3 linked regions of the Homo sapiens genome follow. The protein of the gene in region 3 purifies or fractionates together with the protein of the main gene of each other region. This does not show direct contact. Each region holds a gene or a part of one and is shown on either strand. Other genes may lie near its edges.

What was found.
Region 1: the proteins of U2SURP (region 3) and U2AF2 purify together in Homo sapiens (affinity purification with mass spectrometry; 4 studies listed by BioGRID and IntAct, with this or other methods). This does not show direct contact.
Region 2: the proteins of U2SURP (region 3) and SF3B1 purify together in Homo sapiens (affinity purification with mass spectrometry; 4 studies listed by BioGRID and IntAct, with this or other methods). This does not show direct contact.

The regions. Positions count from the first base shown.
Region 1 is NC_000019.10:55,665,035-55,668,686, reverse strand, and holds part of U2AF2 (splicing factor U2AF 65 kDa subunit), read right to left. Parts: intron 181-3,652; coding exon 101-180; intron 18-100; coding exon 1-17. UniProt on the Homo sapiens protein: Plays a role in pre-mRNA splicing and 3'-end processing. By recruiting PRPF19 and the PRP19C/Prp19 complex/NTC/Nineteen complex to the RNA polymerase II C-terminal domain (CTD), and thereby pre-mRNA, may couple transcription to splicing.
Region 2 is NC_000002.12:197,390,002-197,393,653, forward strand, and holds part of SF3B1 (splicing factor 3B subunit 1), read right to left. Parts: intron 3,188-3,652; coding exon 2,971-3,187; intron 2,461-2,970; coding exon 2,302-2,460; 3' UTR 1-2,301. UniProt on the Homo sapiens protein: Component of the 17S U2 SnRNP complex of the spliceosome, a large ribonucleoprotein complex that removes introns from transcribed pre-mRNAs.
Region 3 is NC_000003.12:143,018,454-143,022,105, reverse strand, and holds part of U2SURP (U2 snRNP-associated SURP motif-containing protein), read right to left. Parts: intron 2,138-3,652; coding exon 2,070-2,137; intron 1,508-2,069; coding exon 1,413-1,507; intron 757-1,412; coding exon 721-756; intron 634-720; coding exon 551-633; intron 1-550.

The sequences.
Region 1 (3,652 bases), on a different chromosome or scaffold from region 3:
GTCAGCAGCTCTTTGACCTGCAGTAGCCGAGAGTCCATCAGGGCTGGGATGAGGTGGGGCGGGGTGGGGGGACGGGTCTGGAGGGAGGCAGGGAAGTTACCTGGTCATCGTTCAGGTAGTTGGGTAAGCCCCCGATGAACAGCTTGTGGGCAGAGTCGGGGACCACAGTGGACACAACCCCTATGGGTAGAGAAGAGGAGGACTTCAATTCCAGTACCAGGTTATCTCCCAAAACCTGGACAGTCTACGGCGAGCTCCTCAATTGCCAAAGAGAACACTTCCTGCCTGATCTGACGAGGGAGGGGTCGCCACGTGCCCACCCCACCCCAGCCTTATCTGACCAGTGAGGGTCCTGGGCAGTGGCACACAGAGGCTCCTCGGGGAGAACGCACCATGTCTCCCAAATCTGCCCAGCCTCAGGGGAACCTCAAACTAGAACATCCTCCAGAACGCTCCAAAGGCACAAAGTTCACACCCACATCTGCTACCTGCTGCTGTGGAATGCTGGCAGGTCACCTGGGCTCGGGACCTACTGGTGAGTCACAACACACCCCACCCCTTCTCTGACAGCCACCCAGGCAAGGCTCCCATTAAAGCTCAGTCCCGGCCGGGCGCGGGGGCTCACGCCTGTAATCTCAGCACTTTGGGAGGCCAAGGCGGGCAGATCACAAGGTCAAGAGATAAGACCATCCTGTCCAACATGGTGAAACCCCGTCTCTCTAAAAACACAAAAATTAGCGGGCTGTGGTAGCGTGCACCTGTAGTCCCAGCTACTCAGGAGGCTGAGGCAGAAGAATGGCGTGAACCCAGGAGGCGGAGGTTGCAGTGAGCCGAGATCACTCCACTGCACTCCAGCCTGAGCAACAGAGTGAGACTCCATCTCAAAGGAAAAAAAAAAAAAAGCTCAGTCCCTTCCCTTCACGCCCTGTCAGAACTGCAGGTGCCACTGCAGGGGTGCAACTGCCCTCACAGGGGTGGCACGACACGATGAGCAGCCGCGGCTGCCCGGGAAGTCTCAGAACAGCATCCGCAGCATTAGCTGCTCTGATCTCACTGGGAACTGTGGGCTGACTGTGGGATGCAGGATCCAGTGTCTTCGAGGGCTGACATACCAGAGTGGGGGCTTATCAGCTGAATTTACTGGCCCTCGATCCTGCCCTATCCACTGAACTCTGGACTCACAGACAAGTGCCTGCTGGTGGGATGATTCAACCTGAGACCCCACAGGCTCTGCCAATGTAACTTGACGCCGTCCTGTCAGATATCAGCTATGCCAGGCCCCGGTAACCAACCAGCCTGACTCCCAAGTTCAAAACCTAGGCCATATGGCCTCCCCTTCCTCTGCAGCCTCCACACCAAGTGTGAGTGGCCCCATCCCACCTCCATCCTGATGCTGGGAAGGAATAGGTAAGACAGGAAATGGGAAAGAGCCTCAGAAGCATGAGCCGCTGTGCCCATGGAAGGAGGGGAGATGCCCCCACACACCCTCTCCCACCTACTCACTCAAGCCCTTCCAGCCCATGATGACGCTGCCCCCACAGAACTGGAAGCACCAACCCAGCCAGCTCCAACCACCAGACTGGGGCCACACAGACCCCAGGAGACCCAGCTCCTATGCTACAGGGACAAGTAGCAGCAGCCCGGGAGCAGGAACACACACCGGGCACTCACCCCATGGGCCAGGCATCCTGTAAGACTTTCAACCTCCTACTGCAATGCTATACATACAGCACAGAAGGCAAAAACTGAGGCACAGAGCAAAGACACACAGGCAGGAAAAAGGCAGCCTCCAGAGCCCACACTCAGCTGTGACTCCCCACAGGCAGCATGGCAGGCTGCAGGCTCTGCCTGGGTCCAAGGAAGAATGGGTCACACTGGAAGCTCAGCCGCGAGCCCTGGCTCTGCCCGTCTCACTTGAGCAACACAGAGCCAAGGATACAAGAGTTGGGCTCCCTGGGTTCATGGCTCCTTGGGTTCAAGTCTTGTTTGTACCATATGAGCCTCCAAGGGCCTCAGTGTCTTCATCTGTAGAATGGGAAGAACCCTGGTGCCCATCGTGTGAGCCACGTGTGTGAGAACAGCTCAGGCCAAGTGCTGATTCAATCGAGGACGTGAGAACAGGCACGGCAGTCCCCATGGCCCGGGCATCTGCCAGACTCAATGCCCACAACAGGACCCACCCAGCCCAGACACACACTGTGAGCACTGTCAGTGGGGTCAGCCGCTGTTACATGACAACAACTTCAAAGGAATCTTCTCGGAGTCTTGAGTTCCTCCACTCATCACTGAGGACAAGCCCTGCTTGGCAGGGATGTTCCAAGAGTTGGGCGGGGAAACAGGGCCCCATACCTCTGCAGCGGCTGCATCTACAAAGCATCACACCTGGAGCAGAGGCTGTGTGGGGAAGACCCAGCAGGGATCCCCATTGTCCCGAAGCTCTTTCCTCATCTGTAAGATGGAGCAATGTCCCCTCCCATGGTGACCAGGCCATCTTGGTGCAGGGGGCGCCTGAGAGGAGCTCGGCAGCCACTATCACTGGGTTGCCCTCAGCTCAGCCCCTGCCAGAGCACCCCATCACCTTCAGAAGAGTCAAGCTCCTCAGCCTGGTAAGAGAAGCAACCTTAGATCCATAACCCACGGTTCCTATTCCCCAAGGCCCACCACACGTCCCTACCCAGGAAGGAGGCGCTGCACAGTGAGGCCAGCTGCACCGCCATCCATCTTTACTTACAAAAACAGGCAGTGGCCGGGAGCAGTGGCTCACGCCTATAATCCCAACACTTTGGGAGGCCAAGGCAGGTCACAAAGTCAGGAGTTTGAGACCAGCCTGGCCAACATGGTGAAACCCCATCTCTACTAAAAACACAAAAAATTAGCAGGTGTGGTGGCACATGCCTGTAATCCCAGCTACTCGGGAGGCTGAGGCAGGAGAATCGCTTGAACCTGGGAGGCGGAGGTTGCAGTGAGCCGAGATCACACCACTGCACTCCAGCCTGGGCAACACAGCAAGACTCCGTCTCAAAAAACACAACAAAAAAACAAAAAACAGGCAGTGGGCCAGCGTTGGACTCTCAGTTGTAACCTGCCAATCCCTGTGTCGTAGAACTGCCGTGCATGGAGGGCACTTAGGACAGCGCCAATCCCTGTGTCGTAGAACTGCCGTCCATGGAGGGCACTTAGGACAGCGCCAATCCCTGTGTCGTAGAACTGCCGTCCATGGAGGGCACTTAGGACAGCGCCAATCCCTGTGTCGTAGAACTGCCGTCCATGGAGGGCACTTAGGACAGCGCCAATCCCTGTGTCGTAGAACTGCCGTGCATGGAGGGCACTTAGGACAGCGCCAATCCCTGTGTCGTAGAACTGCCGTCCATGGAGGGCACTTAGGACAGCGCCAATCCCTGTGTCGTAGAACTGCCGTGCATGGAGGGCACTTAGGACAGCGCCTGACACACACTAAGCACCAGCAAGTGGCGGGCCACTCATGGGACTTAAAATGAATGAAAACGCAGTGGATTCACCAGGAAGAGACGTGGGGAAGACATTCTGCAGCTTGATCGGGGAAACGCACCCATACGTAAAAAGTCCATGTCGATTGGGAGCATGTCAACATATATTACAGGCTCCAAAAGGTTAGCTGAATTTACCAAAACCC
Region 2 (3,652 bases), on a different chromosome or scaffold from region 3:
AATACAAAAGAAAAGGTCTTTGAGAAGATAGGTAAAACTTCACATAGCGTCTTCCACATATCACAAAATGCTTTCCTTATTTAATAATAAGCACATAAAATAATCCAAATATCTGTGAGCCTCTATTTGGTCCCAATGTTTTAGGTCATAGCTTTCACTACTTCCCTCCTCTCTATCCTCAAATTATTTGCATCAGTAAAAAAAGTTAATTAAGGTGTAACAGTCTCCTTTGCTCCACAATGCCACTACAAAGCCTATTTTCCATAAAGAACCAGAGGCCAAGCAAACGTAGGCTACTAAGTACTTGAATTGAAAATACAACTAAAATTTCCTGAGTCATTTAACATCAAATTTTGGCTTTGTAATCTATTTGTATTCAATTCTCAGTCATTACTGAAGGTCATTTGACATCAACCATAGAGAGCAGTGAGATTTAAAGTTGCATGGAAGTACCGCTGAAAACTTCTAACAACAGAAAGATGAGTTTGGAGTGTTTAATTTTACTACATAGTGACATATATTCAGAAAGTTGTCATACAAGGAATGATGAGGAGTTACAAATCCAACTTGGAAACCCTTAATGCTCACTATCAATTTGTTGAAAGTCAATTTTTTTTTTTTTTTTGAGACGGAGTCTCTGTCGCCCAGGCTGGAGTGTAGCAGCGCTATCTCGGCTCACTGCAAGCTCCGCCTCCCGGGTTCAAGCCATTCTCCTGCCTCAGCCTCCCTAGTAGCTGGGACTACAGGCGCCCGCCACCACGCCTGGCTAATTTTTGTATTTTTAGTAGACGGGACTTCACCGCGTTAGCCAGGATGGTCTCGATCTCCTGACCTCGTGATCCGCCCGCCTCAGCCTCCCAAAGTGCTGGGATTACAGGCATGAGCCACCACACCCGGCCACAAGCTGTTTCTTAACTAAGCTTCTGAAGCAGGAACTCCTAAAGTGTCAATAGGCAGTTTTACTTACAGTAGTAGTTATATACTAATGCTGCTTGCAGAATTTTTTTTCCCTTTAGAGTTCACAGAAGTACTACCACATGGAGACAAAACAAAACAGTAAAAATAGTATAGGTAGTAAAAAGGCCAAAACTAAGAAATTTGGGGCCATAACATTAGAAAAGTTTGAAAATATACTTTACATATTTGCTTAAAAAATTAAGTGTAGTACTGCCTTAATGCTTGGTTCCTCTACCATTAAATGGCATTTCATTCAGTTTATGCTGAACTCTTAGATCAACTTATTATTACTGAATACAAAGCTAAGCAAACCTAGACATTTTAGCTGCTGCCACTGTGTATTATCACAGTACATAAGGAATCTGTCACAAGGTTTGTCTCCCCTTCTCCATTATACTGTTCTTAAAGGTAGAGGGCAGGTCTCATGCACCTTTGCATCCCCTGCATATAAGCACAGTGGCTGGCATACAGTGGGTGAATAGGTATTTACTGATGCATTGCTGAGTAGTGGCTTATAACATGGAGAAAAGCCCAACATTGTCCTGTTCTATCAGCATTACTTAGGTATCCTCACTCCTAATAGGCAGAAAGCAGTTTTGAAGTAAAGTTAAATTCCTCACTTGCTAAACACAGCAGACCTGTCAAGTGTTGGACAAGACTTAAACCACTTTCTTTAAATGTGTTCATAAAGCATTTTGAGAAATCAAGAGATGAAAGGCGCTATGTAAGTACAAAATATTCAAGACAGTTTAGCAAAAGTGCTACTTTTCTACGATGATGGAATGGTTGTGCTAGTTTGAGGGGAACATCCCCTGAGGCTACTCTTCTTGCTGTCATTATTAACACAACAATGGAATTTTGACAAAGATGCCATCACTTTATATAGTTTTTATTCAGCTAACTACTTTCTATAAACCATGTGACAGAAAATGAAATTAAGCCACTTATTCCACATAAACCAATACTTTATCAAAGTTCCGCATTTTACAAGTCATGTTCAAAAAACACACACAAATTAGCATTTTGTACACAAATGTTTATTTCTCAATTAAACATTCCCTTTAAACACAAGGAATGAGTTCTAAATCTTCATAAAGATGAATTAAAAATGAAATCCCTCCAGTATAGTGTATATAATCACTGTGTTCTTGGTCACTACTGGCATTTACTGTTTAACATCAAAAACAAAGACAGGTTATTTAAAAATCATGCTACTGGATTTCTAGCTCTTCCTCTATGACCAGTTCTACACTGATCTGCAATGTTTAAAAGTTTACATCACCAAATCAAAGCAAGTTTAAGGTGTGAAGTAGCTGTGCATTAAACACAAAATAAACAATAAAATTATAAGATATAGTCAAGTTCATAACGAATATAGGTGTTCTTATCATCGTTGTAGATTCTTGGGTAATGTGCTATGAGAGCGTCCTGGGAACCAATGTAGATGGAGTTGTAAATTTTCCAATATACATCTCTGACTTTCCGGGCTGGGTGAAACAGACCCTAAAATAATTGAACGGTTACATTATTTCAATTTTTAAGAACATACATAACCTTAACAAAATTAAGAAAACATAAAGATATGATTCAAAATTATTTCCCTTGGGGAGTTGGGGGGGGGGGAACCTACTAATTACACTGCTCTTAAGCTGCAATGGAAGAGACAAAACTCACTCCCCTGTCACCACACAATTGTTCTACCATATGGCACAATATACCCTAATGATAATCAGGAAAAGTAACTTAATTCAATACACTACTTTTCTTGCTAAGTAATCTTTTAAAAATCTTTAACTTACAGGCAGTGGGGGGAAAGGGGAGGGAGAGCATTAGGACAAATACCTAATGCATGCAGGGCTTAAAACCTAGATGACAGGTTGATAGGTGCAGCAAACCACCATGGCACATATATACCTATGTAACAAACCTGCACGTTCAGCACAAGTATCCCAGAACTTAAAGTATTATTTAAAAAAAAAAAATCACCGATTAAAAAAAAAATCTTTAACTTACCTGTAAACAATATTGCAACATTCTACATGGTCCAATAGCAACTCTCAGGCCCTCTAGGGCTCCCATAACTGCCTGAATTACATGAGGAGATGTCTCAAATACATTGGGCCATACATAGTTCAACAAGTGATTCAGCGAATCTTCACAACCAAATCCATAAACCCCAAGTGACATGTGCTGTACCACTGCACTAGCCGTCTGTCTGTGTACAAGGTCTCTACAACGGAAGGGAAAAAAGTCCTTTAAGATGCGGTCTTATAAGAAAGGGGGAAAAATCCTTAAAGATACAGTCTTAGTTTTACAGGAAATATTCACCGGCCCATTAGAAACTAAATTACTAATTCAGTGCACTGAATAGATGTGAAGTCATCTAACATTTCATATATCTAATATATCCTTTAGAATAGCTTCCACTTGAGGACTTTTGCTTTAATTACTCAAGATTCACTATGGCTCAACAATTAAGCCATATTTTCTAATTAACTTTTTTTTTTTTTTTGAGACGGAGTCTTACTCTGTCACCCAGACTGGAGTGCAGTGGTGTGATCTTGGCTCACTGCAACCTCTGCCTCCCAGGTTCAAGCAATTCGCCTGCCTCAGCCTCCTGAGTAGCTGGAATTACAGGTGTGTGCCACCACGCCTGCCTAATTTTTGTATTTTTAGTAGAGACAGGGTTTCACCA
Region 3 (3,652 bases):
ACAATGAAGAAAAAAAGTATCTAATCATCTGTTCTAACAATCAACTACCCATGTAATCAAATGCAGAGAAAACAGGTAACAGTATATATGCAAAATATAATTTTTAATAATAGCATATTATATACTACCGTTACTACATTCCCCATATCATAATTAACAGCACCAATGCAGGAAAAGAATTAAAATATAAAAGACAAACCACAAAGAGTAGTTTACTACTATGAGAAGAAAAAGGGACTCCACAAGGAAACAAGTATGCATCAGAAGTGGACAGTCTCAAAATAATATTATTCATCAATGGTCACACCCTGATTTAATAATAAAATCAGCACCTAGTAAAACATTTCAAATCCAGAGTTCAATCTAGTTACTGAAAGAGGAAACAAGAATATGTGGCAAGACAACCTGGGCCATACCAGTAAGACAACTCTAAAGACTATCCAATTCCATCAGATTTGTCAGCTTCAGAATCTTGATTTTTTTTGACTAACAAAGCTTTCTTCCAAAAGCATAAAGCATATCAATCAACATTCATCTTACTTAATATTACCTGTGGATTAATGTTTCCAAGGTATAAATTAGTAGTGCTTGGATCTCCTACATCATGTGAGCCAGGTGCGTAATCATCAAGAACTAGGGCAGAAAGAAAAAAAGAATTATAACCTGCAAAACATAAAGTTTGGAAAATTTATCGATTAAAAGAGCAAAAAACTGTATTACCACCAGATGATCTATTTCTTCTTGAAGGCGCGTCCACTTAAAGGGGAGAAAAGAAGACAATTATTAGTTTTTATAATACAGTAGTCCCCCCTTACCCTCACCTTTGTTTCCCCCAGTTTGTTACAGTAAGGTATTTCTGAGAGACAAAAAGAGAGACCACTTCACACAACTCTGTTGTTGTTGTTGTTGTTTTTTGAGACAGACTCTTGCTCTGTCGCCCAGGCTGGAGTGCAATGGCACGTTCTCGGCTCACTGCAACCTCTGCCTCTCAGGTTCAAGCAATCCTTCTGCCTCAGCCTCCTGAGTAGCTGGGATTACAGGCACGCACCACCACGCCCGGCTAATTTTGTATTTTTAGTACAGACAGGGTTTCATCATGTTGGCCAGGCTGGTCTCGAACTCCTGACCTTAGGTAATCCACTTGCCTCGGCCTCCCAAAGTGTTGGGATTGCACATAACTTTTATTTCAGTATATTGTTATAATTGTTCTATTACTTATTGTTGTTAATCTCTTACTGTGCCTAATTTACAAATTAATTTTTACCACAGCTATGAATGTGTAAGGAAAAGGATAGTATATATCCATGGTTTCAGACATCCACTGGTGATCCTTGGAATGTAACCCGCCACGGATAAGGTGGGAACTACTGTAATTAATCACAAGCATACACATTAAAATAAATGCCACTTACTAGAACGACGCTGACCATCAGAATCTGACTGAGGAGGTTCAAATCGACTTAATCTGCCTTTTGTTTTATGTCTCTCATCACGTTCCTCTTGAATTCTGTTGAAAATATTTACAATCACTTATAATGAGCCAAAATTTGTTCATTCACATTTCAGAATAGCGCTTATCAAATTACTATCATCAAATAACTAGAAATATCTGTAATTAAATACTGGTACTGATAACCAAGATTAGAGGGTCCCTCAGCTATAATACAACCACGAGCAAATTTCTGATATATCATACTACCAATGGAACACAAAGCCTACTTTAAAGGTGAGGAGGAAATTAAACACTAAAACCACTGAATTTGTTTCTTGCTAAGTCTAACTGCCCCTCACTCCCATCCCAGTGAGTATACTGTTTCCACTGCAAACAGGACTCTGGACATTAAGTAAATCAATTGAACTGAATCCTCGTAATGCAAGCAACCCAGGTGCTGGACTAAATGCTAATTTATTTTCAAAGATAGCCCACCAAATATTATAATATCTAAAACAATCTCATAGCAAACTGGTTAGTAATAACTAACTGGTACAGTATATTCTTTATACTTGCATCTGTTTATGTATCAGCTCAATACACCTATGATAGTTATTCTCCACACTATAAAACTTACTGCTTTAATTCTTCTTTGAAGAGTTCCAAATTGCTTTTTTTCTTTTCTTTCTCTCCTTTTTTAAGTGGCTATAAAGGATATGACAAGTTATACTTCAAACAAAAGGATAAGCAAAACCAATGATTCAATAATAAGAGCCTTTTTACATCATTTCAGTACAAATTGTATGTTCTAATTATTTAAATTAAAAAGGAAGAATGCTTTTCTTATCATTGAACCTCCCTTCCCCTTCCTTCAAAATAACAAACAATTAAATTATTACTACAATTAAACAATTAAAATGACAACCAGTAGTCAGGGAAATTAATGAACATGAAGTAACTGAACTGCCATGGAAAGTAACTGCCAAAAATACGCACTCTTCAAAAATCACCTCTGGAGGACATGAGTTACTGGAACAGTAAGTAACATCTTTGGAATCCTCTTTTAAAACTGCTTCTTAATCTACTTTTGGAATCCTTCTTTTAGAAGTGCCAACATAATTTAATAGGGAAGAATAATCTTTTCAACAAATGGTGCTTGGACAACTGAATATCTACATACAGAAAAATGAAGTTGGACTTCTACTTTACACCATATACTAAATGTACAAAAATTAACTCAAAATGGTTCATGGACATAAAAGTAAGAGCTAAAACTATAACACTTTTGGGAGAAAACCACAGGAATGAATATTCATAATCTTGAATTAGGTGATGGTTTCTTAGATATGACACCAAAAGCGTAAACAAAAGAAAAAAACTGATAAATTGGACTCCATTAAAGTTTAAAACCTCCATGCTTCCATCAAGAAAATGCAAAGACAACCCAGAGAACAGAAAACATTTCCAAATCATATAGCTGATAAGAACCTTGACTCAAGAAGATGTAAAATACTCTTACGATTCAACAACAAAAATACAAATAACCCAATTAAAAAGTGGGCCAAGTATCTGAACAGACATTTCTCCAAAAGAAACTTATAAATGGACAATAAACACATGAAAAGATGCTCAATATAATCAAGTACATGCAAATCAAAACCACAATGAAGTACAACTTCACACACACTAAAATGACTAAAATAAACTTTTCAAACAAAATAGTTTTGTTTGTTTGTTTGTTTGTTTTTGAGATGGAGTTTCGCTCTTGTTGCCCAGGCTGGAGTGCAATGCTGTGATCTTGGCTCACCACAACCTCTGCCTCCCGAGTTCAAGCGATTCTCCTGCCTCAGCCTCCCGAGTAGCTGGGATTACAGGCATGCACCACCATGCCCGGCTAATTTTGTATTTTTAGTAGAGACGGGGTTTCTCCATGTTGGTCAGGCTGGTCTCAAAGTGTTAGTGTACGACGTGAGAAAACTGGAACCCTCATACATTACTGGTGGAACTGTAAAGTGATACAACCACTTTGGAAAAACTGGCAGTTTCTCAAAAGGCTAAACATAGTTACCATGTGACCCAGCAATTCCACTTCTCGGTGTGTGTATATACATGTATCCAAGAGAACTGAAAACATAAGTTCACACAAAAAAAGCCCACACATGAATGTTTACAGCAGCATTATTTCTAACAGCAGAAAAGTGGAAACAATCCAAATGTCCA